5 separate regions of the Homo sapiens genome follow, and all the other regions are linked to region 4. The links come from fine-mapping of genetic effects on gene expression. A gene starts in region 4. Each other region holds a variant in brackets. All regions are shown on one strand. Distances are from middle to middle.

Region 1 (6,412 bases), 74 kb after region 4:
TAGGAAGGTCAGTTTCTACGGTGCCATCCACAGAGCCTCTGTGGCATCCTGTAGTCTGCCCCAGCCTGGTTGGGCAGTCACAGTGTTTCCCAGGCCCCCTCTAGAGCCTGTGCTTCTGCTGCTCTGTCTGCTGACAGGCTGCCTCACTCAACAGGTAGAGCTAAGATATGTCCTGACCTGGCCAGTGATACTCAGGCTTACCAGCTACGTTTATTCCCTCGTGCTCCCCAGCCCTACTCCCTGCTCTTACAAGTTCCAGCTTTTGCTTATTTGTCCATATTTTAGAAATGACAGTGGATTCATGATGATTATGTTGTATATGCAAGGTCTCCGTGGCCCTGCCTCGATACCTTCCTGGGGTAGCACAGGTGCCCCTGGTCAGGCCGTACTTGGTGGGGCTGGTCCTACGGGGTTCCTGTTGAGTAGCGCCCTCAGCTCATTCATAAGAGGTTAGAGCCACTAAGAAGCTGTCCTACACTACATTTTTTTACGTGTTCCGAAAACAAGGTATTTAATTAGTTGTTTTATGTAAACATAGTCCTTCTGTCACAGCTCTGTGTTCCAGCACAGAGAGCATTAGTCAAGAGCCAGGAGACAGGGGCTCTGCTTTGACTCTGCCAGACAGCCCCTCACAGCTCTCTGTAAAATGTGGTTCTAAATGCCTGCCCCTCCTTCCTCCCAGGATTGCTATGAAGATCGGCTGAAGTGTGTAGTGAAATCCCTTGAGAAATAGAATACTAACTCTAGAGCATTTTTAAAAAGGCAGGTGAAAGAAGGTTTCTCAGAGTCCTCGGAGGTTGCTGTCGCTCATGCGGCCACCAGCAGAGATTGGCTGCCATAGGAAAAACACTTGTTTCTTGTTCCAAAACAACCACTCCTATATGTGGTACATCTGGATGTGGGAAGCTCCCAAAGAGTGCACTCCTGAGTAGTGGGTGGGACGTCTGCCTGGGGCAGAATTAGTCTCCCTCCAGTGGCCCCCAACTGTTTCCCCCTGAAGAGACCACATGTAACCCATCCTGTGGTTTGTCCTTCTGCAGGAACAGCTTGAGAACTATGACTTCACCAAATTCCACTCGCTGAAGCCCAAGCTGATCGAGGCAGTGGACAACATGCTGAGCAACAAGATCTCGCCCCTCATGAACCTCATCAGCCAGGAGGAGACGAGCACGCCCACGCAGCTGGTGCAGGGCGGCGCCTTCGATGGCACCACCGAGGGCCCCTTCAACCAGGGCTACGGGGAGGGTGCCAAGGAGGGCGCCGACGAGGAGGAGTGGGTCGTGGCCAAAGACAAGCCCGTCTACGACGAGCTCTTCTACACTCTGTCGCCCATCAATGGCAAGATATCAGGTGTCAACGCCAAGAAGGAGATGGTGACCTCCAAGCTGCCCAACAGCGTCCTGGGCAAGATCTGGAAGCTGGCCGACTGCGACTGCGACGGCATGCTTGATGAGGAGGAGTTCGCGCTGGCCAAGCACCTCATCAAGATCAAGCTCGACGGCTACGAGCTGCCCAGCAGCCTGCCCCCCCACCTCGTGCCCCCCTCGCACAGGAAGTCCCTGCCCAAGGCCGACTGAGGGGTGGGCTGCAGAACGGGGTGGGAACTGGGGGACCTGGGCCTCAGGCCTGCTCCACCACTGACTCACCGAATGACCTTGGGCAAGGCACTGCCCTCTCTGTGCCTTGGTTTCCCCATCTGTAGAATGGGGAGGGTGGACACTGGAAACTAGATGACTTCTTTCACCTCCAAAATTCCCTTAGTTTCTATGAAAATATTGGGGGTAGGGGGGTGGATTAGGAGATTGAAGGGTTGAGAAGAAAGAGAAATTGTCCAAAGAGTCCTCAGAACCTGCCTGGAGAAATGCGCATGGGGGTGGGCCTGGTAAGTCCCAGGAACCACAGGAAGTGAGCTAAGGCTCACCCAGAGCAGCTGGGTCTCCAGGCTGCCTGGGCTTTTTGTCCTCATGAACAACTCTGGAGCAGCTGTCTGTCCCTCAGAGGGCACCTGGAGGCAGCAAAGATTATCTTATTTATTTTATTTTGTTTTCTGCTATATTTAGAGTGGCAAAAAAATAGAGCAGAGGGTTTCTGCTGTCTCCAGACTGTCTACCAAAGAGAAGGCGACAGATGCCTCCTGGGTTTGGAAGGGGGATGCACTGTGGATCTGCCATCCATTCTGCAGTCTCCAGCAGAGCAGGCAGTCAGGCCCCAGCGTGCCTCCATCCCAGTGCCCCGATGACCATCTGGTCAGCCCTCCCAACCTCCCTTCCAGGGGGCTTACCAGCAAAGCCATATTCGGCTAGGAATTTGGAATTCACAACCTTTATTAACCCCTGGCAAAACTTCCCGTTTGCATGTCAAATCACATTGAAGCCTGAAAATTAGCTTTTCTTACTGGTTTTTCCAATAAGTAATAGCAAAGCCCACTTATCATACTTAAACTACAGTAAAGAAAAGAGGTGGTTCTCTGCAGTGATCGTTTAGTGTGGCCCTCAAACATTAAATATCCCGAGGTCTCCTTGGTGGGTGGCAGGATTTAAATTCAATCAAATCCTGTCCTAGTGTGTGCAGTGTCTTCGGCCCTGTGGACACAGGTGAATGAGGGACCAGCCCTGCCCTGGGCTGTTGAGAAGAGATCAGTCCACCCAGAGTTAGACATTGTTTTTGTAGAAAACAGGCATTTATTATGTCTAGGGTTTTGTGTTTTTTTTTTTTCCTTACAGGATAAAAGCCTTTATACAGAAACAAAATGGAACCTTTCATATAAAACCTTTTCTTTAAAGGCTGTGTGGTTCGTATCATGAATGCCCATCACGAGGCAGGATTCGGGCACATACCTGTACTTCTGCTCCAGAGTGTGCGCTCCCCAAATCCCCTGAGTAAACCTCTCTGGACTGCTGCTCAGACACCTGCGTCAGGTGGAGGTGCCTCCCCCTCTGTGGGCACCAGCTTGGGGAGGTAGGTGACTTTTCCTTGCAAATCTCCCTGCCTCATCTCCAGAAAATTGCATACCTGCATGGCCTCTCTGCATTATTTATGCAGGAAGAGACACGAAACAGCAATGGCCACATGGTATGGGGGCCTGCTGGCACCAGAAGTGAATGAAATCAGAACCGTCCCACTGAGTCTTCCAAAAGGCACATAATTTTTTTTTTCTGTCACCTGCCTTTGGTGACAGGGTCAAAGGCACAGATTGAAGAGAAAATCTTGATTTGGGAGAAGCATTTATATCCAGATGCCTACCCTTACACTCCCTAGCTTACTTTCTACATAATTTAGTTTTAAGAGCAGGAAATGCATAACATGGTTTTTAGTCTTAACAAGCACTTAAATTCATTAGACGCATAGAAAAGAACCATTTATTATTTTATTATTTTTATTTTTATTTTGAGAGGAAGTCTCTGTCACCCAGGCTGGAGTGCAGTGGCGCAATCTCAGTTCACTGCAACCTCCGCCTCCCAGGTTCAAGTGATTCCCCTGCCTCAGCCTCCCAAGTAGCTGGGACTACAGGCACCCGCCACCACGCCCGGCTAATTTTTGTATTTTAGTAGAGATGGGGTTTTACCATGTTGGTCAATATGGTCTCGATCTCCTGACCTCGTGATCTACCCACCTCGGCCTCCCAAAGTGCTGTAACCTAAGCAGACAGTTCTGTGAATGCGTGAGGACCACCTGAAGTCTGCAGCCACGGTGGAGGTCACCAAAGGGTGAACTGAGAGAGAAGAGG[G/A]AATTCACTTGCCCAAAGGTTTACAGATGCCCAGGCAAACTGATTTTTCCATCCAGAATTATCTTGTTCTTTAACTCTCCTCAATTGTCATATATAAACATGAATTTATATACATGTGTGTCACATGAGTATGTCGTTTTAAAACAACGTGTACATATGTAAGTTTTGTCTGGATACAGAAAGCTGCTTTAGAGGGCAGCAGGTTGAGGTCTCTGATTTCTCCGTGGAGGAAAACCTCTCAGGCACTGTGATCTCCCTACCTCTGCGCTCTCAGGTGGGAGAGGCGTCAGGCAGCGGAGTCCTTTCCCTGCTGGCACCTGGTAATGTTCTTGGAGAGAAAGGAAAAAAAAAGGAAATCATTTGGCCACTTTTCTTAATATCCTCTTACATGCAGTCATTCATCAAGAAAAGTTGACTGGAAAAGAAAACACTAGAAAATATGAGGGATGGCGACCAAGTGAGGACTTGTATCTTCCCAGGACCAGTACAAAGTTCTGTGAATGTGTCCACACCACCAGCTGTCTCCCTACCCCACACGGCAGGGCGGCAGGGCCGACCCTGGGGCCTGCTCACCATCACCGTTGCCCTTCCTGCACCACCCCAATTTTCAAAGAACCTCTTCCACAGAGTGTTTATGTATAGGAGAGAGGGTGGAAGTACCTAAACTCTAGAACTACAACATCTAAGAAGCTGAGGCCCTGTTTTCTACACAGCATATGGTATCGCATAACACAAACCTTCCGGTCTTGAGTTTAAAGGGAAAATGAAAACTCCAGCCTATTGCTCCCACAGTCTGCTTCCAAGTTGTCAGCCTGCCAGTGAGGGTCTCCTGACCCCGTTTGTAGAGAAACACTGCACTAAGACTTGGGAATCTCCCCAGCTCCCAGGGAGGGGTGGCACACAACAGCCTTCCAACCTGCTTCCGCCTCCTGCTCCAGCCCTGCAGCGTCTGTCAATTCATTTCTCAACTCACCGCACTTGGATGGCCTGGGGGCAGGGTTGCTCTTCTGGGGGAGGGTCATTCATTCAGTTGGCTTTTGGCTTTCCTTTCTCCGGGCTGGGCCTGGTTCTCTTTTGAACACTTGTCGTGCTGCAGCAAGAGCATCTTTGGATTTGGGGCTGTGGAGCTGTGGTTCACCCGCGGGAGTCACAGCCGCGGCCTGGACCTTTCCACCTCGCACCCTCGCTCACCCTCCTTCATGATGCCTGGAGGATGCCTGAGACAATTGCCTTGAAGATGAGGAAAGTGTTTCACTGTTTATTTTCTCCATGGGATGTAGCAGGCAAGCATGCTTAGGACAGAAAACCACTGAGTTTACTCAGGTAAATGCGGGCCTAATACAAGAGTATTGGGTTCCAATGTTGGTTAACCAATGCAGTTAATACGCAATGCTTCTATTTTTTTTCTTTTTGTAATCTTATTTAGAAGTTTCAAACAAAAAGACATAGTCTGCTGATCAATAAACATGGAGCTGCCCTCTCCCACTGGCTCATTTTCCAGTGGCTGCGTGCTGGCCTCTCGGAGCAGAGTGTGGATCCCTGGATCCAGGTTGAACCGGGGGAGAAGAGTTAGGGAGAGGGTGTGCCTGTGAGCCCCAACTCTTCCTGTGGAGAGAAACCCAAAATGCAGCCGCTTCAGAAGGAAAGCGGCCCCATCAGGTGGGGACAGAAGAGGGTAGGCAGCAGAGGCCAGGTCTGTGGACAAAAGCCCCACTTCAGAGTGGTTGGAAGCCAGGACAGGAGGGACTCATGGAGGTGACCGCTTCACAGGAGTCCTTTCTCCAGTCGTGCTAGGGAGGAGCCCCTGCCTGTCCAGCACTGCCCCTGCCTCTTGCTGTACCTTGCCAGTGTGCCCTCCCCCCGCCCACTACCATAGTAGGCATCTGGCTTTTCCCACCAACCCATCTACCTTTTTGGTGGTCCAGACCTACAGTCTCCTTGCAGAGCACTCCTCCTCCCACCCTCACTTCAAGTGAGGTTTGGATGAGATTGACCACATCCCCTTGGTCACAAATATTGGCTCAGGAATGGACATGTGGCCCTGTTCAAGCCTATGAGAGCCAGGACCCCCAGACTTATGTTAGAACTCTTGAGAGAGATACTCTGTCTTCTCTGAACCTTGCAGTATATAGAAATGAGCCTATTGATGCAACAATATAAATGGCACTGAGAGGGGTGTCCAGAGCTGCTGGGGTCAGGGGAGGGAGGTCAGCCTGGCAGAAGCCATCTTGTGGAGCATGAAAATGAAAGAGACCTTGAGAAAGGCCAGAGGAATCCAGGCCTGTGGTGACAACATTTGAGCTGCTGGATCAAACCTCACCTGAAGTCCTTCCTATTCCTACTAGATATTTTTTTCCACTGTGTGGGCCAATGCATTCCCTTTATACTGTGTAAGCCAGGCATGGTGGCTCACACCTATAATCCCAGCAATGCAGGAGGCTGAAGTGGGAAGATCGTTGAGGCCAGGAGTTCAAGACCAGCCTGGGCAACCTAAGAAGACCCTGTCTCTAAAAAAGAATTAAATATAAATAAATAAATAATAAAAATATAATGTTTAAACCAGTTTCACTTGAGATTTTAGTTACTTGCAACATAAATAATCCAAACTTTGTTCCGACCCACAGGGTTCTCATTTCACCAGGGGCTGCAATCAGTCGTGGCCAAACAGGAGCCAGTCCTTGCATT
Region 2 (6,412 bases), 65 kb after region 4:
TATCTCTAAGAATCTTGTAAATCATTTCAATTGTCTTCATTTGAAAAATAAGTACATAAACAAGTTTGCTGGTGACAGAAAGGTTTAGCGTCATCTCTCCAAGACCATCCTCTCAGCGGTAGCCAGGCTGCACAGTGCATGCTTCTGTTAAACGACCCTTGTGCAGATGGGAAGTTGACATTGTCTGACCTCAGCATGTCAGACCTTGCATTAGGTACTTAGGTTAGCATCCAAATCCTCACAAAATGTTTTTGGCTGTGTCCAGCATGTGTCCACACACGGGCCCTCAGCTGAGCTATGGAATGTATCTGCTTACCCCCTTTATTTAATTTCAACTTCTACAAGATTACAGTAGAAGTCTGTTTTCTTTAATAGGATTTTCCGTTGCTACATAGTCATTTTCTTTTTGTAATCACCACTCTGTTTTTCATCCTTTCTTATTTTAGTTACTTACTTGACTTCACAATTACTCTGAAGTTCAAGATATACAAAGTAGCCGGGCATGGTGGTTCATGCCTGTAATCCCAGCACTTTGGGAGGCCAAGGTGGGTGGATCACCTGAGGTCAGGAGTTCGAGACCAGCCTGGCCAACATGGTGAAACCCCGTCTCTACTAAAAATACAAAAATTAGCCAGGCGTGGTGGTGCACACCTGTAATCCCAGCTACTCGGGAGGCTGAAGCAGGAAAATCGCTTGAACCAGGAGGTGGAGGTTGCAGTGAGCCAAGATCACGCTGTTCCACTCCAGCCTGGGCAACAGAGCGAGATTCCATCTCAAAAATATATATATACAAAGAGAACTTTTGTAGTGAACATTTCTTAATATCCTGAAGTTGGAAATCAGTAGAAGAGTGGAAATGTTGAGGCCAGATTCTCGCCCCTCCAATGACAGCCTGCTGGCTACCCCAAGCCCCAGTGATCAAGGTTTCTGGGGCTTCTGGGCTCCTCTCCCAGGGGGATCTTCTGCCATCCAGCCTGATCCCAGGCAGCTGGTCTTGTGCAGAATGACTTTAATTCCACCTGTAGAGATCTCAGAGTCTAAACCTCCCATAACAGGGGGGTTATGGGGATTCTCATCTCATCGTTCACTGGGTACAGATTTCCATGTTGATCAGCCATTGATGCCAGCCTCCAGTTTCATTTCCTGTTGCTCCCAGGCACCAGCCTGGTGAAACTTTCTCCTGGGTATTCTGGTTAATTGCCAGAACTAAGAGCTCTCCCACCCAGGCCCCACCCATACCACTCACTCCCTACAGACACCAGAATTGCCACTCAGAGGCACAACAGAACAGTAGCCGTAGAATTTCCCCAAGTCTGGCCACATTCCGGCCACCCTTGGACAGCTCCACTCCCCCTGGACCCTCCCCTCCTCCTGTCCTTGGGACCTGGTTTGTGTGGGTACCTGTTATGTGTTATGATGGAGTTAAGATGCAATCTTGTTTGTTCCTTCTCTGATGCAATTCTAAATGACACTTCCCTGCCTGATCTATACCCCTCCAGGTGCATGCCTACATCATCAGCTACCTGAAGAAGGAGATGCCAAGTGTATTTGGAAAGGAAAACAAGAAGAGAGAGCTTATCAGCAGGCTACCGGAAATCTACATTCAGCTACAGCGAGAATACCAGATTTCTGCAGGGGACTTCCCTGAGGTCAAGGCTATGCAGGTACTGGGAGCCCACTACAATGTCACGGGCAGAGGGCAGAGGTGCAGTGCCACATTGTCTGGCTGTTTGCTGGAGACAAATGAGAGTCCCATGGTTTAGGATCAAGGACAACGCATCTTCCTAATGGTGATCCATGATAATAGGCTATGAATAAAGCAGAAATTGCCTGTCTTCCAAAATGCGTAAACAAAGGAAACACATGGCCAAAGGTAAATGAAGCTCCCATGAGAAAGTCAGGTGAGCAGCCCTCTTAGACTGTGTCCAAGGAGGCTGGTTGATGTTGCGGTGACATTGGAATCCCAGAACTGTGAGGGAATCACAGCTGGGAGTGGCCTTCAGGGTCACCTTGGGCGGCCTCCTCCAGCCCTGCCCTGACCTGCCTCACGCCGTGGGATTATGTGCTCAGGCAGCCTTGCTGCTGCAGGCTCAAGGGCTCCAGCAGGGGCTGTGGGGCTCTGCGGACGCTGCTGGACTGCGTGGGCACAGGGAGGACTGTGCTTAAAGGCTGGTGCTGGGCAGCCATTGGCCTGCTGTCAAGGCCTCTCTTGAGTTGTGGCTGGGCAGCTCCAGCCAGGCAACAATGGGTGCTGCATTCAGCCGTCCTGCCCTGACCGGCATATCTACCTCTCTGCACTGCTGTTAGACGAGCGTGTCCTCACAAGCGAGGCCACCCATCTGGCTTCTGGGCTGACAGTCCTCACAGAGCCAGGCTGGCCGTCTTCTTATCTGCTGCAAGGACCCCTCTGCCCTGGGGGCCACAGTCCTCTCTGTAAAGCAGGAGCCACAAACTCAGATGCCTGCAGCCACCACCCAGTAACGCAAACAGTGGAGCAGGCCAGGCGAAAGAGAAACTCTGTCACCCTCTCTGGCTGCCTTTGGTTTTCCCACGTTTGATAGAGAAGAAGGTTCCAAGAAACATGTGTCAGCAAGGAAGAAAACCATCCCGAGGTGTGCTAAGAACATGTCAGGGGTCTCATGGCAGGGCAGATTGGACAATGCAG[A/T]AGCCCCGTCTAGCCCAGTGGTCACTGCCTTGTGGGACTACAGACCTGGAAGGCTCAAGAGAAGCTGGAAATCTGGATTTGTATGTCAGATCACCTGATTTTCACATTTAGGCTCAAAAAAATACTATGTAGGACAAACAAAGCCCACCTGCATATGGGCTGCACACAGAGACCACCAGTTACCATCTTTTGCCTTGAGCCACAGAGTGACAGCATTGAAGCCAGCATAGATTAAAAACTGCAAGCAGGTACAGCCCGAGGCAGGAGGAGGGAAAGGTGAAAGCAGAGAGGATACAGGGAGAAGGGAAGGTCGGGCAGAAGAGGCAAGGGCCAGCAGGTGATGAGAGGGGAACTTTGATCCTAAGGGGTTTTTTAATGCAAGCTTTATATAAATTATACACTAACTCAGAGGTGGGTTTTTCTTGCTGTTTTGATGACAGCTCTTTACACCTGGATTCAGAGTGAATCAGTCTAATATATTTGATCTGACCCAATATGCTTTAGCTGTATTTATTTTAAAATATATTCAGAGGGCCGGGTGTGATGGCTCATGCCTGTAATCTCAGCACTTTGGGAGGCGGATGCAGGCAGATCACCTGAGGTCAGGAGTTCAAGACCAGCCTGGCCAACATGGTAAAACCCTGTCTCTACTAAAAATACAAAAATTAGCCGGGTGTGGTGGCTATAATCACAGCTACTTTGGAGGCTGAGGCAGGAGAATTTGTTGAACCTGGGAGGCAGAGGTTGCAGTGAACTGAGATCGCACTGCTGTACTCCAGCCTGGGTGACACAGGCAGACCCCATCTCAAAAAATAAATAAATATATACACACACACACACACACACACACACACACACACACACACACACACAGAGCCTGGGCGCAGTGGCTCACACCTGTAATCCCTACACTTTGGGAGGCCAAGGCGGACAGATCACTTGAGCTTAGGAGTCAAGAGACCAGCCTGTGCAACGTAGTGAAACCCCGTCTCTGCAGAAAATCCAAAAAAATTGGCCAGGTGTGGTGGTGCATGTCTGTAGTTCCAGCTACCCGGGAGGCTGAGGTAGGAGGATTACTTGAGCCCTGGAGGTGAAGGTTGCAGTGAGCCAAGATCGCACCACTGCACTCCAGCCAGGACAACAGTGTAAGACCCCGTCTCAAAAAAATATATACACGCACACACAACAGAGAAATGTCTCTTTTCTTCCAGCAGTGAAATGGGTATTCCTGTGCTCACAAGCTGAATTGGGTTTTTCTGGTCACCAGGTGGTATTGGAGGGCTGTTGTGGCCTCCAGGAGCAGTCTCCCTGGGCAACTTCCCCATTCACACCCCTGGTTATGCCCTGTATCCCATGACCAAGGAGTAAGACAGCTGTTTCCTTGTACCCTTCAGATATTTCAGAAGGGAACTTGGTTTCTTGACCTAAATGAAAGTTATAAAGAAATACAGAGCCTGAGCTGTGGCCCAGTTGGGGCCTCTGTGCCTCGCTGGCTTCCTGAAGTTGCTACAGTGCCTTGCCACAGGGAGACGCTGCTCTTGAGCCCTGGGGCTCCACAGAGGCCTCCCTTGCCAGGCCTCTCCTGCTGGTCCCCTGTGAGCCCGATAATGTAGGGAGCAGGCTCTGGGACCAGAGCTACTCATGACAAAGCTAGCCTGGGCTGGCCAGGTCAGAAGACACCCAGGGTCCTCTGAGCTGGGGGAAGGCAACAAGGAAAGCATGATCTCAGGAGCAGCCATGGCCCACTGAGATGGAGGGTACAAGGAGGGCCAAGCCTTTGCTGAGAATCACCTGGACTCAGGTCTATGCCCAGTACCTTAGCACCACGGAAGGTGGGTGAGCAAGCAAGTGCAGGATCCAGCCAGCCACTCCAAGTGCTGACATAGGAGCAGGCTCTGTGCATGGTCTGCAGCCAGACCAGGTGTGTCACCCCAAGGGGAACGTGGCAGTGCCCAGGCAGGGATGCCCGCAACCCCAAAGCCCCAGAGGGGGTGCTACAGTGTGCTAATTAGCTCTTTTAGTTGTGCATCATGTTAGCAGCTCAGTCACCCTCTTGCCCCACTCTGGCCCATGGCTCCGGTCCAGCTCGACCCCACCACTGCTTCTGTTGAGTGGCACGGCTACCCTGCAATGGTGAGGGCAGAGGGCCAGTGTTACAGCCTTTCTGGGTACCTGCGTTTGGTGGGTCCCAAGCTTTTGTCCTGCATCCAAGAAGAATAAGGTCATGCTGACAATTGAAGAGTGATGAGGGTGGAGGATTTTACTGAGCAACAAAACAACTCTCAGTGAAGAGGGGATGGGAAGATTGGGTTGTCTCTCCTGAAGTCAGGTCATCTCCCCAGTGTGGCTGAGTCTGGGGTTTTTATAGGCACAGGATAGAGGAGTGCATGCTGATTGATTTGTGAGTATGCAAAAAAGGTTAAAACAAAGGCACCAGTCAAAGGTGGACATAACAGTGTAAAAACAATTAGGGAAGGGTAGGTATATGTAAAATAGGTGAAGGGTGAGGATCAATCAAAGAAAAGCAGCCAAATGGAAAGACAGGTTCTCAATCCAGTCCATGGATTTGACTTGTAGCTTGGCCTGCAGGCTTTAAACTGCCTTTGGCTTGAAGATAGGGTTTCACTGGAGACCCACCCCTATCTGCCTCAGCATTTTTCTGCCTCCTGCTGCTATCACTGTTCTAGGCCCCTGGAATAAATCAACACAAAAAAATGAACAAATGAGGCTGGACATAGTGGCTTACGCCTGTAATCCCAGCACTTTGGGAGTCTGAAATGGGAGGACTGCTTGAGTCCAGGGGTTGGAGAACAACCTGGGCAACATAGTGGGACCCGATATCCATTAAAATATTTTAAAATTAGCCAGGTGTGGTTGGCTCATGCCTGTGTTCCCAGCCAGTTGAGAGGGTGAGGTGGGAGGATGGCTTAAGCCCGGAGGTCGAGGCTGCTATGAGCCATGATCACGCCACTGCACTCCAGCCTGGGCGACAGAGGAGACCCTGTCAAAAAACAGAAAAAATGAACAAATGGGGGTAAAAATAATTGACAGCAACCCCACTGTAAGGACACATGTTTCTTGTTACAATATGAGCACTGTTGTGCTTCCATGTAATTGAATTATCTGATGTCTGATATTTAGTATCTCTCTCCCACGTAAGTCTGTGGCTCCATGAGGTCAGTGACCCATGCCCTGTTCACTGCCATATCCCCAGCATCTAGGACGTGGTGAGTGCTCAATTCACACAAGCCAAGTGAATTAGTAAGTTAGTGTAAGGCCATATCACAGCAGGCTCTCAGGCCCTGACGCAGCCTCGATTCCCACAGGGCTTATAGACCAGGGGTTCCCCGTGCCAACCCCTAGAAGCTGCAGGAAGAGGCCTCCTTGGGAAGTAGGCTGAGGCCCAGTCACATCACCCCATTCCTTCGGAGAATCCCCAAGGAACAAGGCAGCCTGGAGCCTGTCAGGAATGCTTAGTGTCACCTGATACTGCAAGCTAGCTTGCTGTCACCGGAAGCTTTGAGGGGCGCGTGTGTGGGTTAGGGCCTGTCCCATCCCTGAGGCTGTTAAAGTCTAACATCCTCTGTAACATAGGCCTTGACAGAGGGGGGACATACGCTTAGAAGTGACCACACTGTGATCTTTGCACATATCAGGGTCACGCAGAGAGCTCGCTGATGCCAGCTTTAGGTTGTTATTCTCCCTGTTCTCTCATGGAGCCAGCTGGTCAGAGTGACTCTTAGCTGT
Region 3 (6,412 bases), 41 kb after region 4:
TCACACTTGTAGTCCTAGAACTTGAGGCTGAGTCGAGAGGATCACTTGAGGGCAGGAGTTCCAGACCAGCCTGGGCAGCATAGAGAGACCCAGTCTCCACAAAAAATAAAATAAATTAGTTGGGTGTGGTGGTGTGTTCTCGTAGTCCTATCTCCTTGGGAGGCCGAGGCAAGAGAACCTTGAGCCCAGTAGTTTGAGGCTGCAGTGAGCTATAATTGTGCCACTGTACTCCAGCCTGGGTAACAGAGCAAAACTCCATTTATTTATTTGAAAAAAAAAAAAAAAAACTTCCTGGCACATGGTTCAGGGGCATCTGGGCAGGGTCCAGAGGGTTCTGATACAGGGGGCCCCATTTTGAGGAATCTGGGTTAGGGCTGAGCCACCACTCCTGAGCCTGAGCCTGTCCCTCCTACATACCCTGCCATCCCCAAAACAAGTGAAAGAAGGGGCTGGCAAACTTGGAGAACCTACCGAAACCAACCTGGGCTTTGTCCTGCATCTCTGTATGCCCGAGGGTGAAGGCTGCCCTCTCAGAGAACGGAGGGGAGAACTTGAGTGAGAGAGACGATGGGGTGGGGCAGGCTCTGTGACTAACCAGCCTCCTTCCAGGGCAGGGCTTTGGAAGGAAGCAGAGGTGACTGTCCCGCAGGAGTCACCAAGTGACCCTGTCGGCCTCATGGGCGTCTGACAGGGAGGGCGTGAGGCCTGATGCTGGGTCCTCTGTCTGTGTCTCACTGCTTGCAGGAGCACCCCCGCCTAGCCTACTTCGGAAGCTAGGATTTTTAGGAACCCCTAATGAAAATAAAGAAGGAATTTTTTTAAGTTTTCAGGTACACTTTGAAACGTTTAATAACCTTCCCTGGTTTTATGGGGACATTCCTGTTACACAGCCTCAATCCCTGTTGCTAGAGGTGGTAAAGCTTCTCTCCCTCCTAATCACTGTGCACCAGTGGGGAACCCCCAGCCTAGAAGGTGGGAGGGAAAGATTATAAATGCAGGATTCTAGGTGGAAGAGAGGCAGTGGCAATCCATGCCGAGAAACACTGGCCGGGCACGTTTCTCCCTGTCCCTGGCTCTTTCCCTTGCCAGCTGGGCAACCTGGGCGAGTTACTTCACCTCTTTGAGCTTCATTTTCCCCTGCTCTAAAACAGGGGAAGGTACTTTCTCTCGTACAGTGGGATCTTACGAGAATCTGAATGATCTGTGTTCATACCTAAGTGCTCCATAGATATCAGCCGTTCCTGTTATCTATGAAGCTCAGAGTGAGAGGGAAACAGCAAAAGGTCCTCCCCAGGATACACGTGTGGCTTGAATTCAGGTTTCATGTACCTGTGCCCGGCAGGCAGGCAGGCATCTCGACCATCCAAACAAGCCTGTGGTTGGGGAAACGCTGAAAATAACAAGGCTTTCAGGGAGCATCTGTATTTTCCTTAGAAAGACAGAGGGAGGTGGGGAGATGCAGGCACACTCCTGTGGGCCCTGGAGGAGGCTGACCTGAGCTTGAATCCCAGCATGGGGCCCTGTGAGCCTCTTTCCGCTTTTATAAAGTGAGGGAATTTTCCTTCCCAGGGTTGTTTTGAAGATAACATGTGTAAACCATTTAACATGGATCATGATTAATAACTGGTGATAGGGGCGGTCATGATTCATTTTATAGAACTGGGGTGGTCCCAGAATAGACGGACCCAGCTCAGAGGGCCCTCTCGGCCAAGCGCTCAGCATTTCCCAGGGGAGGGCAGAGGATGGCCGAGTCCTGGGACTCAGACAAGGGCCTTGCTCTTCCAGAGATCCAAAGCAGGGGCGGTGAGGGTGCGTGAAGTATTTGGGCCTGACCGTAGAGCTATGGAAAGCCACGAGAGTGCAGACAAGGGCTGGAGGTGGGAAACCTGCTGAAGAGAATGACCCGGGAGCAGTGTTCCCGGGTGTGGCTGAGGGGCCCGGCTTCTGGCACTCCTCCAATTCTTTTTGCCATAATCCTCTTTCTTGTATCTAGGGATATTTCTCACACATGCCCTGATGCAGTTTCCTCAAGAAACCTCCATTCACCTGTAATCTTAGTCTCTTTCTCAAAATTGCCTCCTGTTGGAATCCAAATCGAGATGCAAAGCACAAATCAGACCATGTATGCAGCGTTTCACCTTTCTGAAGCACCCTGCGGTGGGTAGGTGTGTATGTGCTTGGGACAAAAGGCTACAAAAAGATAGTGAAGAATGTCTGTACCACCCATATCCCCCAGTTCCTCTCCCAGAGCAGACCCTGCCTGCAGACCCTGGGGCTTCTCCCAGCTCACCCGCCCACTCACGTGGAGCCCTGGCGGGATTCGCTCCACTGCCCTGTGTCTTGATTTTCCCACTTATAGTAAATCTTGGAGCTTGTCCATGTCTGTACTTCGGAGCTGCCTCCCGCAGTCCATCATATAGATAGACCAGAATTAATAGGTGCCATCCTTTTGGTGGGTGACATTCAGGCTGTTCCTAATCTTTTGCCGTTACAAACAGTGCCACAGTGGATTTACACAGTTTAGCATGTACGGTGCAAGTGTATACAGTTGGCACGATAACGTGCAAATATATCTTGAAAATTGCTGAAAAGGGAGGAGCTTAAAAAAAAAAAGAAATTGCTGGCTGGGCGCGGCGGCTCACACCTGTAATCCCAGCACTTTGGGAGGCTGAGGTGGGCGGATCACGAGGTCAGGAGTTGGAGACCAGCCTGACCAACATGGTGAAACCCTGTCTCTACTAAAAATACAAAAATTAGCCAGGCGTGGTGGCGTGCGCCTGTAATCCCAGCTACTCAGGAGGCTGAGGCAGGAGAATCACTTGAACCTGGGAGGTGGAGGTTGCAGTGAGCTGAGATTGCGCCACTGCATTCCAGCCTGGGTGACAGAGCTAGACTCCGTCTCAAAAAAAAAAAAAAGAAATTGCTGAGTAGATTTTAAGTGTTCTTACCACAACAAAACAAGTATGTGAAGTAATGCATATGCTAATTGCA[C/T]TGTCAATTTAGCCATTTCACATTGAATGCATATTTAATTTTGTTTTATTTTAATTTAATTTTACTTTATTTTATGTTTTATTTTATTTTGAGACAGGATCTCGAAGCTCCGTCACCCAGGCTGAAGTGCAGTGGCACGATCACAGCTCACTGCAGCCTTGACCTCCTGGGTTCAAGTGATCCTGCCACCTCAGCCTCCTGAGTAGCTGGGACTGTAGGCATGCACCACCATGCCCAGCTAATGTTTTGCATTTTTTGTAGAGATGGGGTTTCACCTTGTTGCCCAGGCTGGTCTCAAACTCCTAGGCTCAAGTGATTCACCTGCCTCAGCCTCCCAAAGTGGTGGGATTGCAGGCATGAGCCACTGCACCCAGCCTCAGTGTATACATATTTCAAAACAACATGTTGGACATGATAAATATATACAATTTTTCTTTATCAATGTAAAAAAATAAATGAAATAGAGACTAATCCAAAAAATGTGCAGATGTAACTCTAAGATGCATTCCTAGAGGTGGAATTTTGGAATCAAAAGGAGCGGCGGTCTTTTTATTATGTTAGCTGGTGCCAAAAATGCCACTGTAGAAGGCATGCCTGTTTACATGCCCACCATCTCATTATGATTCTAATTTTCATTCCTCATGGTTAGTGTGGTTGAGCATCTTTTCATGTATACCTTTTTAAAGTATTTCCTTTTCTGGAGGTATTTGACTGTTTTGAAATACTGTTGGTAACTACATGGGCTACTTTTAGCAAAATCAGTGAGTCATTTTTTTATAAGGAGCCCCGTGTGGATTCCCATGGTTCCCACTGACTGGGTCTTTCTTTCCATCTGTGACATAAGCCCAGAAATAACTGTCTCTGAGTAATAGTTTGGCTTGAGGAGCTGGTTAGCTGATAACTTAATTGCTAGAGCTGGTCTGCAGTGCCAGCTGTTGTCCACAGGCATGCAGGACACTTGTGCAATGCCAAGATGTTTGAAAAGAGGAACAGGGCAGGGCGAGGGGTGGGGTCTTCAGGTCAGAAGTTGCTTTCTAGCCCTTTATGACCCCAGTTGTCATCCCGTTGGTTTAACATTTCTCTTTAGAAAACTGTAGCCTGAAGAAACATTACCTTTGCCCTTCTGAACCACAGAATGACAAGATGCATTGTCACGGTCAAAGCCTTGCTTATAAATGTTTGACCTCATCACATTTGGGTGGAGTCTGTTGGCATTTTGCCTCAAGAAAATTCAGTGCAAGTAATGTTTGCCACGCCAACTCCGTCTGATTTATAGACATATTGTATGAGACTTTCTAGCCTGACTTATACACAAAGCCCACTTGAAAAATGAGGAATGGACAATTTCCATGTGCGTGACACGGGATTCCTGGATCTGTTCATCCTAATATATAATAATATCAGAAGGTTAGATGGGGTGACTTCTTAAGCATCCTTGGAAGTCATACATTCCACAACCCTTCCTCAGATAGTTTCTTTCAGTATAGAGTTGTTTGGAATTGGATGACAATAAGTTAAACTTTGGGGCAACTAATTACACCTATAGAAACATTCAAGGACCTTCAAATTGGCCCAAATGCTATATAGCACATGAATCCAGTAGAAGGGATGTAATAAAATGAAACTTACTGTTTGATAATTGTGTCATTTAGAGTTGTTCATTCAGTATTCCTGTAGCCATCTGAAGGGTCTACTGTAGCCATCTGAAGGGTCATCTTAGGCTGGCACTGTAACTAGTTCGTGTCTGTACTATACAGACGCTGAGCTAAATCGATTTTCCTGGGAATCTGGCTTTTTATTTCAAAGAAGCTTACTGTTTGGAACCACCCTATATAGCTAAAATTTAAGATCTAGAAAGAATCCTTTTTGATCATCTGACTCACAGGTATAGAAACTGAGGCCCAGCAGAATGAAATTGTTAAGCCAGGCTCCAGGACTTACAGGATTTTCTTGGTAGGTTTTTTTACCAACTTCCCTCTCCAGCAAAGAGCCTAAAATGACTGATAATACCATGTTGCTGTCTTTCTCCAGGGCTCAGCCTTCTTTAAATGGGCCTGCTTCTTCATCTGGTATTTAATCTGAGATGGAAAGTGAGATGCGAAACCCAATTTTCCCTTTCACTTGGTCACATGCCCAGAAGCAGCAGCGTTCAGTGGGCCGAGTACTGGCGTGGAACCTTCCTCTGTTCCCATGTCTGTGGCGTGGCACGAACCTGTGATGTGGGGCTCTCCCGCCCTTGCCCTGGAGGGGCCTTCAGGGACATGTGGCTCACCCATCTGTTATTGTCACATATCCCCCAGAGGAAGGAGGGACAGGCTGTGAGGTTAGCTTGTTTATTTTATGAGGAAACAGGCACAGAAAAATTAATTTACAGAGTCTTGGACAAAATCCCAAAGGAAGGAGGAGTGGGAAGAGCAGAGAGCGGATAAACAGCACAACGCCATCCCTGGACACGCCTAGTTCTTGCTTTTATTTAAATTTTGGTAGGTTCTGTGGCCACACCCACTTTAGGCTAGGTACTGGGAGACAACCTCTGGGGTTTTCTGGTAACCAGTTACATTCTCCAAGAGGTGGCCATTACCAGCTGAAAGGTTCGAGGTGAACTCACATCCAGCCTCTCCAAAAGGAGCTTGGGAACCTGTGTTCCCTCCGGGCAGTCTCCCAGACCGGGTTTGGTATCAGCCCCTCCCTGCCACTGCCCTGCATCTGGTCAGCTGGGGAAAAGGGGGCAGGGAGGAGAGAAGGCCAGTGGAGCAGAGCCATTCATTCTGTGGCTTATTTTGTCATCAGCAGGTCCCATTGCTCCCGCTGATTGGGGACTGCCTCTTCCTCGGGGGTGTAGTTGCTGAGATACTGCTTCCCCCTCAGGGTGGTGCTCGGCACACCCACCATAGCCTCTGGCAGGGAAATGCTGGAATCCAGACCTTCACCAGAAGCACCATTGTAGAAGAAAAAGAACAACCTCCTCAATAATAATGCAAGTGGGCCAATAATTTTTACAATATGCATATTTGTTTTCTTGATATAAAAATAATATATATTCATTGTAGAACACTTAGGAAACCACAAATCAAAAAGGAGAAAATAAAGTACACTCACCTCTGATTCTACCATCCTGGTACACATATGGTGCAGCGCAGCGGGTGAAAGCACAGGCTCTAGGATCCGAGTCCCTGGGTTTGAATCCGGGCTCCCCTGAGAAACAGCTGTGTGCCTTGGGTCGGATACTTAACCTCTCTGAGTCTTTTTTCCTCCCCTGTAAAATGGGGGTAATAAAAGTACCTACTTCATGGGATTGTTGCAAGGATTACAAGATTGTAGTGATATGGAGCTCACAGGGCAGTGCAGGAATGTAGTAAGAGCTAAGTAAATATTTGCTGCAGTTGTTGATTTATAGCTATCATTTTGCTCTCTGCCACAA
Region 4 (6,412 bases):
CCCAAAAGCTTTCCAGTGCCTTTTGCAATCCTTCCCTCTGCTCCTCCCCTGCTGGGTCATGTGGTAAGTGTACGTTCCACTTTTTAAGAAACTGCCACACTGTTTTCCAAAGTGGTTGTGCCATTTTACATTCTGACCAACAATGTGTAAGAGTTCCAGTTGCTCCACATCCTCATCAATGATTGGCATGATCAGTCTTTCCTAATTTTAGACATTCTAATAGGTATGTGGTAGTATCTTGCTGTGGTTTTAATTCGCATTCTCCTAACAAACAACAATGTTGAACATGTCTTCATGTGCTTATTTGCCATCCATACATCTTCTTTTGTAAAATATCTGTTTAGATCTTTTTTCCATTTTTTAAATGGAAATTTTAAAATTGGGGTTTTTACTATTAAGTTTTAAGAAGTTTTTAAATATTCTGGATACAAGTCCTTTATCAGATATGTGATCTGCAAGTATATTCTGTGCCTTGTCTTGTCTTTTCATTCTCTTCACAGTACTTTCAAAGGTCAGAAGTTCTCAAGTTTAATGAAATCCAATTTACCAACTTTTTTTTCCTTTAAGGATTGTGCTTTTGGTGTCACCTAAGAAATCTTTCCCTAACCCAAGTTCACAACAATTTTCTCCCGTGTTTTCTACTAGAAGTTTTATAATCTTAAGTTTTACATTTAGTTCTACATTTATATTAGTTTTATATCTAGTTCCATTTTAAGTTAATTTAGTGATGTATCTATTTAGGTTAGGTTTATTGATTGTAACGAATGTTCCATTGGTTCAGGATGTTGATAGTGGGGGAGGCTGTGTGTCGGGGAGGGTGGGGGTATATGGGAACTCTCGGTACTTTATGCTCCATTTTGCTGTGAACCTAAAACTGATCTGAAATTCACGAGTCATTATCACTTACATTCACTCTTGGTGTTGTACATTCTGTGGGTTTTGACAAATATATAATGACATGTATCCATCATTATAGTACCATAAAAAGTAGAGCCACTGCCATAAAAATCCTCTGTTCTCTGCCTGTTCATTCCTTCCTTCTCCCTAACACCTAGAAACTACTGACCTTTTTACTTCCTCCATAATTTTGCCTTCTCCAGAATGTCATAAAGATGAAATCGTACAGTACATAGCATTTTCGGATTGGCTTCTTTCACTTAGTAATAGGCATTTAAGTTTCCTCTGTGTCTTTTTATGGCTTGATAGCTCATTTCTTTTTAGTGCTGAATAAGATTCCATTGTCTGGATGTACCACAGATTATCCTTTCACTTACTGAAGGACATGTTAGTTGCTTCCAATTTTTGGCACTTATGAATAAAGCCACTATGAACATCCATGTACAGGCTTTTCTGTGGATATAAGTTTTCAATTCATTTGGGTAAATACTAAGGAGCTGATTTCTGCATCATATGGTAAGATTGTATTTATATCCGTTTGTTTTTATGTATTCTAAAAAAATACATCGAAGCTTTTACTTTTGTTGTCAAATATGTCAGCCTTTGCTTTCATAATTTCTGTCCTTAATGTTGGTTAGAAAGGCTTTTCCACCGCCAAATTGTATAAATCTCTTGTACCTTCTTCTAGTAGTGCAGTGGTTTCATTTTCTTTTTACATTTCAATCTTTGTTTTATTTTGACACAAGGCAGATGTCTAACTTTATTTTCCCTTGGCTTTCTTTTCACTTCCCTAGTTACATACAATTCCCTCCAACTATGTGACCCACACAACAACTCCAAAGGAGTTTCCATTTTGCTCTTAAGGAAACTAGGGCAGAGAGGTAACTCATCACATTTAAAATCACACAGCCATTAATTTACATAGTCAAGGTTCAAACCCAGATCTTTTGATGCAAAGTCCTGTTCTCTCATACTCCAAGTATGGTCCAGGGATGGGTAGCATTGGCAATACCCGAGAGCCTGTTAGAAATGTAGAGTCATGGGCCCCATCCCATACCTACCGAATCAGAATCCGCATTTCTGTTAGGTTGGAGAAGTACTGCAGGGTGTACTGTTTCCCCAGACTTAGGCCACATCAGAGTCACCTAGGGCATCTGTTGAGCTCCATCTCTCCTCAATATTTTAACTCAGTAGGTCTGGACTGAAGACCAGGAATCTGCATTTTAACAAGCATCCCAGCTCATAAATGCATATATGCAGGTGGCCCCATGGATCACACTTGAGAAATGCTCTAAAACAACTAAGAAATATTCCTAAGCTACAATCAAGGACACAAAAGGTGATTATTTCCCCCAATCTCAACTTAGATAAGTGAGTATCCTTTTAACCTAGAAAAGAAACAGGCCAGGGGCGGTGGCTCACGCCTATAATCCCAATACTTTGGGAGGCCAAGGCAGGCGGATCATCTGAGGTCAGGAGTTCAAGACCAGCCTTACCAATATGGTGAAACCCCATCTCTACTAAAAATACAAAAATTAGCTGGGCATGGTGGTGAGCGCCTGTAGTCCCAGCTACTCAGGAGGCTGAGACAGGAAAATTGCTTGAACCCGGGAAGCGGAGGTTGCAGTGAGCCGAGATCGTGCCACTGCACTCCAGCCTGGGCGACAGAGCGAGACTCCGTCTCAGAAAACAACAACAACAACAAAAAACAGCTAGGAGGTGACAATGACTCACATGTCAATATGTGGAAATAAAGTTGTAATAATGAGGATAATGTAATAATGAGAGTAATGACTAAATTTTCGGCTTTACAGAAAAACACATAAAGAAAACTAAGGGGAAAAAGCCTTTAGCTGATCCAGAATTTAGTGAGGGCAATGTGGAGAAGTAGGAGAAACGGCTACTCAAATAGATTCCAGTCCACTTCCCCTCAAGATTGTGTCAATTATGCCCGTGAGCCTGGGTCTCTTGGCCTGTAAAACGGAGTCATAACCACCCGCCCCCGGGAAGACAGAACCTGCCTGTCCACTTTCTGAACTTTTCATCCCCAGTATCGACGTCCAGAGGCCTGAATGAGTAAACGTTCCAGGAGATGGAGCAGCCTCCGGAGGCTCGCTTTGGGCAGCTCAGATTTACCCGGAAGCCGATGCCACCTGGCCAGAGGTGAGGCACCGGCAACCAGAAGGGGGCCCTGAGCATGACCGGTCAGTGCCACCCGGCCGGGAAGACACCATCTCCCCGCCCAGTCCTCTAGAATGACTCCGTCATCAATAATTCATTAAGAACCTCCTCTCAATTGGCTGACGCCTTCAGCCCTCTCTGGCAGAGATCCAATCAGGAAGGACCTGAGAGAGCTCGTCTGAATAGTGGGCGAGCGCGCGTGACGTAGCGGCCGAAGACTGGCTGTGGCAGCACAAGGCGGGGCCCTCCTCGGGCGGCGGCCAGCGCGGCCGGGGCGGCTCAGTGCGAGCCGGGGAGAGTCGAACCCGGAGCAGGGTCCCATCCGAGCGTGGACTGGCGGCAGGATGTTCAGCTGGATGGGGCGGCAGGCGGGCGGGCGCGAACGCGCTGGCGGCGCGGACGCGGTGCAGACGGTGACGGGCGGGCTGCGCTCGCTCTACCTGCGCAAGGTGCTGCCGCTGGAGGAGGCGTACCGCTTCCACGAGTTCCACTCGCCTGCGCTGGAGGACGCCGACTTCGAGAACAAGCCCATGATCCTGCTGGTGGGCCAGTACAGCACCGGCAAGACCACCTTCATCAGGTACCGTCACCGCCCCTCGCCCGGCTCCCGCCCCGCTCCGCCCTCCCCACGTGTGCGCCGCAGTCGGCCGCCTCCCGCCGCTGCCCCTCCCGGCCGGCGCGACCTCGGGGACCCCTCCCGGAGCTCGGCGCCCGGTGCCCTCGGCCCCGCCCCGGCTGGCCAGCCCCGCGCGCTGGAGGGTCCCGCGAACCCGCGCCCTGCGCACTCCGAGCCCTCCTTCCTTGCGGTTCGGAAGGCGTTGCTCCCGCTGGCCTCGTCCGGTCGCCCTGGCGGGAGGGTCCAAGGGAGAGAGGGGGCGCGAGCCATAATCAGCATATTCTTGACGAGGGAGTGATGCCTAGGGATGGAAATGGGGGGAGAGGCGTAGGGTATCCGAATGGGACAGAGTCCTAGTTGGAGAGTTTGTTTAACTATTCATTTGTTCAACTATTTCTTGAACAAATGAATGGCAGCAGGAGAGCGTATCGCCCAGGCCCCCTTCCCTTGAGGTCTTTACGTGCCACCCCACAGTGTTGTGGGGAGGGGATAAAGAGGCCGCCTACGTTCAGTTCATGCACCGCCTTTAGCCGCCCGTAGGAAGTGAGCTGCGTGTAGCAGCCGCACCAGCCTGTGGAACTAAGGGGGAGTGTCATATTACTATTTGTTAGTTTCCATTTCTTAGGTGGGTCATTCCCTCCTCGCTTACCCTTGACAACTGAAAATATTTGTCATGCTTACCGTGTTTCTGAAAGCACACAATCACTGTGCATACCCTGTGGTTCAAATCATATAGTTTCAAAAGAAGTGACTTTTGCTGGGAAATTATTTAGACAGAAACAGATTGCTTTGTTGATCACCTGTTTTATTTCTAAAGCAGCCAGCATATTTAGGCTCACTGTTTTTGGTAAGAAGAACTTATTTTTCTGACTTAAGCCGTGTATCAGTTGAAACAAAGTGCTGATCATTTAAGGTTTTGGTCCAGGGTTTTGGAAATTGTAACAATCTCTTCATCATTTGATGTGCAACAGGTGTTGAGAAAACTGCATCTATATTTGGATACATGCCATTTCTGTTAAGTAGCGACCTCTTTTTCTCCACTCCAGTGACCTAAATAGTTCCTACAAATAGAGTAGCTATCACTACAGGAAATATGTTAAATCCAGGCCTCCAGATACACTGCGAATGAATTCCACAAAACAAATATACTGTGTATTGAAATGTCGTTCTAGATAATAAATTGAGTGTGAAGAAAGTAATTTCAAAATTGCTTTATTTGGTGCTTATGGACAAGACAAAAATAGAATTAAATATGTCACCGTCACCCAGACACTCAAAATGAACCATAGCTGTATTACAGTAACTGGCACCTTGAAAGATGACAAATGTCACATTTAAGGTCTCAGTAATACTGTCTAGTTTTTAGGTACTAGGGATAATAAAGTGTTATGGCCAAGTGGTACAAGAGTGGGAAGCGGTACTGTTGAAACATACAAAGAAGAAAGGCATATATTTTTGTAATTTAGTGGTGGCATGTCCCCACACCCTAGGCATTTCCTCCTGTTTGTCTTTGCTGTGAGGTCCTTGTTGTGCCCAGGTGTCATCAGGGAGCCCCTGCTAGATGCTGTGCCAACCTGGAGATAATGCAGCCCTCTCTCTGCTCCCATAGACTGGATAGCTAGCCAGCCTGATTATCAACTCCCAGGAAGATGAATACAACTCACAGGAACATGAATTTATCTTTTGTATTTTTCCAGATTTCTCTCTCATTATATTCTCACTCTTCTCTCTGTTTCATTATTTGGAGAAATTTGTGGAATAGCTAAGCGCAGTTTTATGAAGGGTTCTGAGATTTGATTCCTGGCAGCTACCTCATCCAAATTGGCCACCTCTCAGCAGGTGCTGGAGCTGTGGGCCACCCTAGGGTGAGGGAGGAATCACCTTATTAGGAAGCCATTTGTTCTTGAGGCTTTCCTTGAGCTAAGTGGCTTTGTTGTTAGGTGATGTACACAAGGTAGACCAGTGAGGTTAGAAGAAAATCAGTGTGGGCAGGAAGCTTGGTGAGGCCACAGGAGACCTGAATTGCTTTTCAGATTGGAGCTAGGAGGAAGTGATTTAGCACCCGGGAGGAAATCCCCAAACAAAAGGGCAGCTACCCTGGAGACTTGTGAACTTGGAATTAAATATCACCCCAGACACTGTAAATGAACCATGGATTCATCTTGAGCGGAAGGGTTGGCCCAGGGTGCTGAGCATCCTGGATCCTGCCTTAGTTAGAGCCTGGTTAGTGGTCTGGGTTGTTTGCTTCTAGCGATTGGGCCCTAGAAGCTCATACTTGGCTGTGGGGTGTACCTAATCTACATAGCCATAGATTCTTATCTCCCTGGCTTCCTGCACATTCCAAGAGGTCACTGATGACACAGAACCTGTGCTGACATGGTGGGAATCTTCTCTTATTGCTGTTGGCTCTTCTGCCTTTGACTGGCAATAAAGAATTGGCCAGAGAAGGAGGGGAGATGGGCATGGGGGAAAGTGACCATGTCATCTTAGACTCTGTACTAGCCGAGGAAGGATGGATATGGAGCTCACCCAGGCTTGTGTCCAAAACTTGAGGAAAACAGATTTCAAAGATTCCTCCAGAAAATCCCTGGCCCCAGGTGCTGTGAAGGAAGACATTTCCACTGAAAAAGTATGAAGTCCATTTGAAATGAATGCAAACTACACAATTTTTTTTTTTTGAGACAGTTTCGCTGTTGTTGCCCAGGCTGGAGTGCCATG
Region 5 (6,412 bases), 29 kb after region 4:
CATTATGGTGCCCAGGCTGGTCTTGAACTCCTGGGTTCAAGAGATCGTCCCCACTCAGCCTCCAAAGTGCTGGGATTACAGGGAGAGTCATGGTGCCTGGCTTTGCTCTCTCCTTTTACTGTGTGGCAGGACTCCTAGCAGCTTGCCTGAGACCTCATAGCCTGGACCATTACTTTATCCCCCATCTCTGCTACCCCTGGCCCTTCCTTAGACGTGGAGAGGATATGGAGTTGAGGGGGCAGCCTAGGATCTTCAGTTGCTCCGTCTTCTTCTCTTACTTCAGAAGACAACATTTATCAGGTCATCCTCGGGTGAGGGCCATGTGAGGCTCCTGGGTTGAACCAGCATGTGTCTGCATATTTTACGTGAAATGTAGAGGGCAAGGCACAGATCCTCCTTGTGTTAATCTCCCCAGGAAGGAGTAGGAAATCCATCTTGGGACAGCAAATCTGTGCTTGGAAGCATTTCAATAAGCTGGGCCGGCCAGGGCCCCCTTACTGGGTGTCAGGCACCGTTCAAAGCACTTTCCGTGCACATTAACTCCAGGCTCACCACAACCTTACAGGTAGGGCTGTGAACCTCTGCTTATAAAGGAGGAGACTGGGCGCAGAGGAGTCACACGACATACCTTGCCCAGTCCCACGGCTGTGAGTTGATGGGGTCGGGACATGAACTTGGCAGTGCTGACTGCAGAGCCCAGGTTCTTCACTACTGGGCTACGACTACCACTGCACTGCTGTTATACACACAGCAAGTACGTTTGCCGTGCGCCTCCCTTTCTCAGAGAAGAAGCATGAGGCATGATTGCTAGAACACCATTAGGATTTTTTCTGATCCCAGCATAACTTCGTACGAATGCATTCATATGCAGTTGTCACCTCGCAGCATGAGCGTGGCACCACAGGGTCTCAATGCTCCTTTCTGTTCTCTTGCCTGCCCCTCACCCCTGGACACTGTCTTTCAGGGAGCAGAGTCCAGCTGTGCACCCAAAACCCCAGCTGCCCACTCTTGAGGTGCCCCAGCCAAAGCTCTCCCTCCGCCTCCACCTGCTGCTCCTCATCCTCTCTTTTTCAGCCATCCTGGGCTCCTCGCTTTGCCCGCTTGTATGCCATGTGGTGACGTCAGCACATCTCACGGTGGCTTGCTCTGTGGCTCCCGTGCCTGGCCTCTGCTGTCATGTCAGGAGGCCTGGGAGCTGTGGAAAGGCTGTCACTTTATACACAGGGAGTGAACAGTGTGCAAATTTTGAATCCCTCTGTTAGCCTCACCTGAGAATCTAGGGGGTGGCTGTTTTGGAAAAATGGATATTGAGTGTGAGCTTGTGGTTTGGGGAAAAGATCAGCCTGTCCACGGGAATGGTTTGCAGAAAATTGTTTCACGTAGGTGTGATATGTTCAGCTCCGCCAGATGTCTCGGGCCATCTGATGGAAAGAATGGGACGGCACTGAGAGACAATCATTCCTGACAAGAAACGAGGTTCACCACGGATGTGCCCAGAGCCCTGTTCCCACCCCAATTCTAGAGAATTGAATAATGGCATGGTGGGGTTTTTTCTGTGAACTTACAAAGAATGCTTGGTGAGCCTCATGTGCTTTATTCCCACAAACCTCTCCCCGTGTTGGGTAGTAGGGTTTATTTAAAGGTTGGGGTACAGGAGGGGACTGTGCACAAGTGTCTGCAGACAGGTGGAAATTGGGGGCTTCTCTTCCACTAACTTGACCCTTTACTTTTAATGTTATGAGGTTTTTAACTTTGTGGGTTAAATTCCACCCCACTGACATCAGAAACAGTAGGTTGCAGTCTGCAACCAGCCGTGCATTAGCAGCATGGCCTCAGAATGTCATAACTGCTTTGTGCTTCAACTTTTCCACCTGCAAAAGGATCCTAATGTCTTTTTCTATATCTTCCTGGGCCGATTTGAAAATGTAGGAAAGACTGTGTGAAAAATCGTATCCCAAGCCCCTTCAGAGAAAGTGATTTTGAAATGTCAGTAACGGCCGCTCATACCCAGGGCTGTGGTGTCCACATGTGCACTGTGGAGGCTGGCCAGGCCTCCCTGTCCTGCATTCCCAGCATTTTTACTTTGTGAGTAATCCCCACCACTTCCATCGTACGGAAGAATTGAGCTTTTAGCTTTCTGCCCACACAGACACAGATGTCAGCCATCCATAGTAAAGGAAAAGGAGAGGCATTCTACACTTTCTGCCTTAAACATGCACAGTGCCTCACAAAGGTCCATCCCAGACCCTGGTGCCCAGGGTGGAAGTAACAAAGCACTTCCTGCCATCACTTTTGGAGTTACTCAGTCTGAAAGCTAAAAGGACATCGCCAGACCCTGTCGGGAAGCCACCATTTTCATGTGAGGAACCCAAGACCCAGAGCAGGGAGGCCCTTACCCAGAGTCCCATAGCAGATTATCAGGAAACGCTGGGCAGAACTTGAACCCAGGTCTGCTGACCCACAGGCTAGATTTTTCCTCCGCACTCTGCTTCCGTGGAGTGGATACAAGGGCAGTGACTACAGGGAAAGGGACCAGGATCAGGAGGAGGAGATGGTATCAGGCAAATGAGGAACAAGAGGGGCCTAAAGATGCTCAGCCAGGGCCTTCCCCAACCTGGTCCCCTCACCTACTCTCCAGCTCCCCTAGACTCCTAAGCACCTGGAGGATGTTGGGTGTCACAGGTGCCTGCCCCTCCCTGGCCCTAAAGCCATAGGGGACACTGGGCTGGATGCTAAGTTCCTGGGGCATCAGATGGGGAAACAGGCCCCAGTCCCTTCAGCTTTCATGCTAGGAAATAGGCAGGGAGCTTGGGGCTCTCCAGCCCAGTGGGCCAGTGCATCCTGAAGAAGGCATGGGATTCCCAGGGGGAGAGGCCCAGGATGCTTGGGCAGGGGCCAGCATGGAGCCAGGAGAGGTGAGGCCCATGGCTTTGGAGGCAGGCTGACCTTGGTTTAAGGCACCGCTCTGAGTGACCCTGAGCATTACTTAACCTCTCTTATGTTAAGCATAATTCCTTCACCTCATGAGGTCAATATGAGGATCAAATGAGAGGATATTTGTAAGATACCTGCATGTTCAATAAATGTTAGCTAAAATCAAAATGAACAGAAAGGCATCAGGTGGCAGATGGCAGCAGGTGCTTGTGCACCTCTCATACCTGTCCCATGGGCCAGCATCTGTTCTCTGTGGCTGGATGGAGGTGCTATCAATCTCCTCCAAGCTCCTACTTCACAAACAACTTCATTAGGCATCCTCAGTTTCTGTCAGTCTCCTTCAGGCCCCCACTTTACAGATGTCAGTAAGCCCAGAGAGGCCAAGAAGCCCCATGGTTGGAGCACTCTGTGATGCCCAGTTTCTGACCCCTCCTTTGATCCGTCTCTTCCAGATTCATGTGCTCACAGCTCCCCAATCAGGTCCTGAAGAGCATCAGC[G/A]TCATCGACAGCCCCGGCATCCTTTCTGGGGAGAAGCAGCGCATCAGCCGAGGTCAGTGCCTGTCCCTGCCCCTCCCCACCAAGTGCTGGCTGAGGCCCTCTCTGCTGTGAGCAGAGGATTTCTGTCCCTATATTATTCTATCCGTCCTCCAGGACAGCTGTTGGGCAGCTGAAGGGGCCCCAAGTGTCAACCAGGAGTTCATAGCATCAAAGACTCTGCCCCCTCCAGAGGCTTATATTCTGTGAGAAAGACATTTGTCAAGTTACACATGAGTAAATGAAGATGAGGAGTGGGGTAAACAATGGGAGGTATCGAGGTGTGAGGGGACCTGGCTTGGCCTCGGGGGTGTTGGGAGAGGCTCCTGGAGGAAGCAGCATTGGAACTAGGATCTGAAGGAGTAGGAATTACCTAAGGGAAGCTGTGGGGTAGGGAGAGATTATGAAGCATTCAGAGGGGATCTGTGAAGGATAGAAAATGCTTGTGCCGAAGCATAAGTTTCTCCAGCCTTCACAAGACAAGGCTGAGGCAATAGCTGCTTCTAGGCCTGTGCTTTGTAGTCAAAACAGATGGGTCTGCTGGGTAGAGTGGCTCACGCCTGTAATCCCAGCACTTTAGGAGGCCGAGGCAGGTGGATCAGCTGAGGTCAGGAGTTCGAGAAGAGCCTGGCCAACATGGTGAAACCCCATCTCTACTAAAAATACAAAAATTAGCTGGGCATGGTGGTGGGCACCTATAGTCCCAGCTACTCGGAAGGCTGAGGCACGAGAGCTGAACCTGGGAGGCGGAGGTTGCGGAGAGCTGAGATCATGCCATGGCACTCTAGCCTGTGGGCAAAAGAGCGAAACTCCGTCTCAAAAAAAAAAAAAAAAACAAAAAACCGGTGGGCCTGCTATCTCCCTCCGTCCTGGAGGAAGGGGGCATCAGGGGCAGACCAGAGGACAGAGTTGACTTACGGAGAGGAAATGCCTGATCGGGAGGGTCAGGATGGGTTCCTGCCATCACAGGTCCAGAGGCAGCTCAAGTCTTTTCCTTGCCCTGGCCCTTGAAACAAAGGCGGGTTGCTGGGAGGGAGGAGATGGAGCAGATGCATCGCTGCCATCACTTCTGGCTGAGAACTCTTCACAACCCCTTGAACAGCAAGTCGGTAGCACCGTGCTGAGAAGTCTGGGCATGCCAGGGTTGAGCAGAAGCCTGTGTGGGGTCACGGTCGCAGGTTATGACAAGGCAGTGAACACCCCACAGCTCACAAAGCAGAAGTGCAGTTACATAGGCCAGTGAGGGTCCCGTGACAGGGGTCAAGAAAGGGATTCCGAGGCCAATAAGCCCTCCTTTCTCTTGGCATTTTGGGAATGCCATCTCTGCTGCTCCGTGGTCCCGCAGAGAGCTCGGGGCTATGCTGAGCCGAGGCCTCCCAGGGTGCCTGCTGTGCCTTCACTGTTTCAGTCAGGGACTTGCCAGCTATGGAATGCCATTAAGGTCACCTTTCCCGGGCCTCCAAGAACCTTGCAATTATGAAAAAAAAACAAAAAAAAAAACACCAAAAAACAGGTTAATGCTATTCATAAATATCTTGTTGGCTTTATTTTCTATTATAAAAGTATAGATGTTTATGGCAAAGGATTCAGTCAATGAATAAGAATTTAAAAAAAACTCACTGTCACATTTAACAATTATTAATGGTTTTCTCTCACTTCTTAGAGACTTTTTCCTGCGCATATGCAAACACATTTCTAATAGAAATGGGATTACCATGCACATTTTCTACACCTTGATTTTTCTTCATAACAGTCTACCTTGGACATCATTCCATGCCAGTATATTCAGATTATTTCATTCCTTTTAATAGCTACTTGGGTTCCATGAAAGTGACATAATATAGTTCATTTTGCTGATTTGTGGACATCATGATGGTTAATCAGTTTTTATGCTTACAAATAGTGCTGTGGATGGTCGTCTTTTTATGTGTGTCTTTACACCTCAGTGCCAATCAATTTTTTTTTTTAAGAGTCAGTTGAGGACCATTAATTTAGCCCCAGAAAGGTTGCTCTGCAGATAGTATGGATAATAAAGCAGGCCCATGTTCCACAGCTATTCTGAGCTGCCCGTGTTTCACTGCTTCTCCATTTCTGACTGAATATGCTGGAGAAATATGTGGTCCTGCTAACTCTTTCTTTTTACCTCTAAATTTTAAGGCCTCCGGATTTTGGCTCCCACCATATGCATTTGTTTTCATTGGTAGGCCTTTAGCCAGTTCTGTTCACCTGAGTCTTGCAGCGTCTCTCCTTTGCTTAGTAATCGTGTCTTTCAAACTGTAGCTCCCTTACAATAGTGTTGACACGTGGATTAATGCTTCCAGAATGCTTTGAAGATCAGTTCTTTGTATCACTTTATAATATGATCTGACTCATATCCTGGTCTGACTTACTATGGCATGTACTTACTCACATCCTATGCACAGAAATAGCATATATGTTCCAGCCAGTCGGCGGTCCCTGCCACACCGACGGACACAGCAACAGGTGGGGAAGGACCCAGAGCCACAAGCGATGACAGCACGACGGGCCACAGCTGTGGTTCCCAAGCCCGGTGCCACACGGTGTTAGGGGCGCAGCTGGTGGTGGAAGTCACTCAGCTGACATTTTCAACACACTAACCCCAAAGAATGCATACTGTTGTAAAGCAGCTTCAGCTCAAACGATTGCAAACAGTGCCACGTTCTCACGTATACTCACACCTACACCCAGCTTCGTAAGACCAGCTTCATAAGACCACAGCCCCACCTTTGCCAAGAATTAATGTCAACATGGGATAATAGACTGGGTACAAACTGTGACCCCACAAGATGTTTAAAGCATCCCCCACTGACTTTATTGGCGGGTCTTTGCCTCCCTTATGGGCATTGTGCCTGGGAAGGAGGAAAGGTGGCCGCTTGTGTACTGCCCTCCACTGCTCCTCCTTTCCCCTTTGTGCGGTTGATGA

Evidence for each region.
Region 1: its variant is fine-mapped to the expression of EHD4 in cerebellum (GTEx, PIP 0.98).
Region 2: its variant is fine-mapped to the expression of EHD4 in whole blood (INTERVAL, PIP above 0.99).
Region 3: its variant is fine-mapped to the expression of EHD4 in whole blood (TOPMed, PIP above 0.99). The same link has a PIP of 0.9 or more in iPS cells.
Region 5: its variant is fine-mapped to the expression of EHD4 in thyroid (GTEx, PIP 0.92).

What each region holds. Positions count from the first base shown.
Region 1 is chr15:41,895,810-41,902,221 of GRCh38, reverse strand. EHD4 (EH domain containing 4) reads left to right here. Exons shown (of 6, transcript NM_139265.4): 6 at 1,041-6,289. The coding sequence ends at 1,577. LOC105370792 (a long non-coding RNA gene) reads right to left here. Exons shown (of 4, transcript NR_135681.1): 3 at 4,701-6,412; 4 at 3,407-4,055. Among named protein-coding and RNA genes, the nearest start is that of SPTBN5, 5.0 kb to the right of the region's middle. The variant G/A (reference allele first, on the strand shown) is at 3,728.
Region 2 is chr15:41,904,951-41,911,362 of GRCh38, reverse strand. It overlaps EHD4 (EH domain containing 4), which reads left to right. Exons shown (of 6, transcript NM_139265.4): 5 at 1,500-1,664. Among named protein-coding and RNA genes, the nearest start is that of EHD4-AS1, 13 kb to the left of the region's middle. RefSeq lists an enhancer at 6,340-6,409. The variant A/T (reference allele first, on the strand shown) is at 2,666.
Region 3 is chr15:41,928,185-41,934,596 of GRCh38, reverse strand. The region is part of intron 3 of EHD4 (EH domain containing 4); the gene reads left to right. It overlaps EHD4-AS1 (EHD4 antisense RNA 1), which reads right to left. Exons shown (of 4, transcript NR_120332.1): 3 at 6,091-6,247; 4 at 5,311-5,915. Among named protein-coding and RNA genes, the nearest start is that of EHD4-AS1, 10 kb to the right of the region's middle. RefSeq lists enhancers at 4,988-5,117, 5,138-5,217, 5,180-5,683. The variant C/T (reference allele first, on the strand shown) is at 2,992.
Region 4 is chr15:41,969,505-41,975,916 of GRCh38, reverse strand. It overlaps EHD4 (EH domain containing 4), which reads left to right and starts at 3,360. Exons shown (of 6, transcript NM_139265.4): 1 at 3,360-3,658. The coding sequence starts at 3,423. It overlaps PLA2G4E-AS1 (PLA2G4E antisense RNA 1), which reads right to left and starts at 3,154. Exons shown (of 4, transcript NR_120334.1): 1 at 2,919-3,154; 2 at 1,959-2,113. RefSeq lists silencers at 3,309-3,438, 3,479-3,548, 3,649-3,918 and an enhancer at 5,681-5,900.
Region 5 is chr15:41,940,139-41,946,550 of GRCh38, reverse strand. It overlaps EHD4 (EH domain containing 4), which reads left to right. Exons shown (of 6, transcript NM_139265.4): 3 at 3,387-3,484. It overlaps LOC124903477 (a long non-coding RNA gene), which reads right to left and starts at 3,444. Exons shown (of 2, transcript XR_007064603.1): 1 at 3,159-3,444. RefSeq lists an enhancer at 3,318-4,175. The variant G/A (reference allele first, on the strand shown) is at 3,433.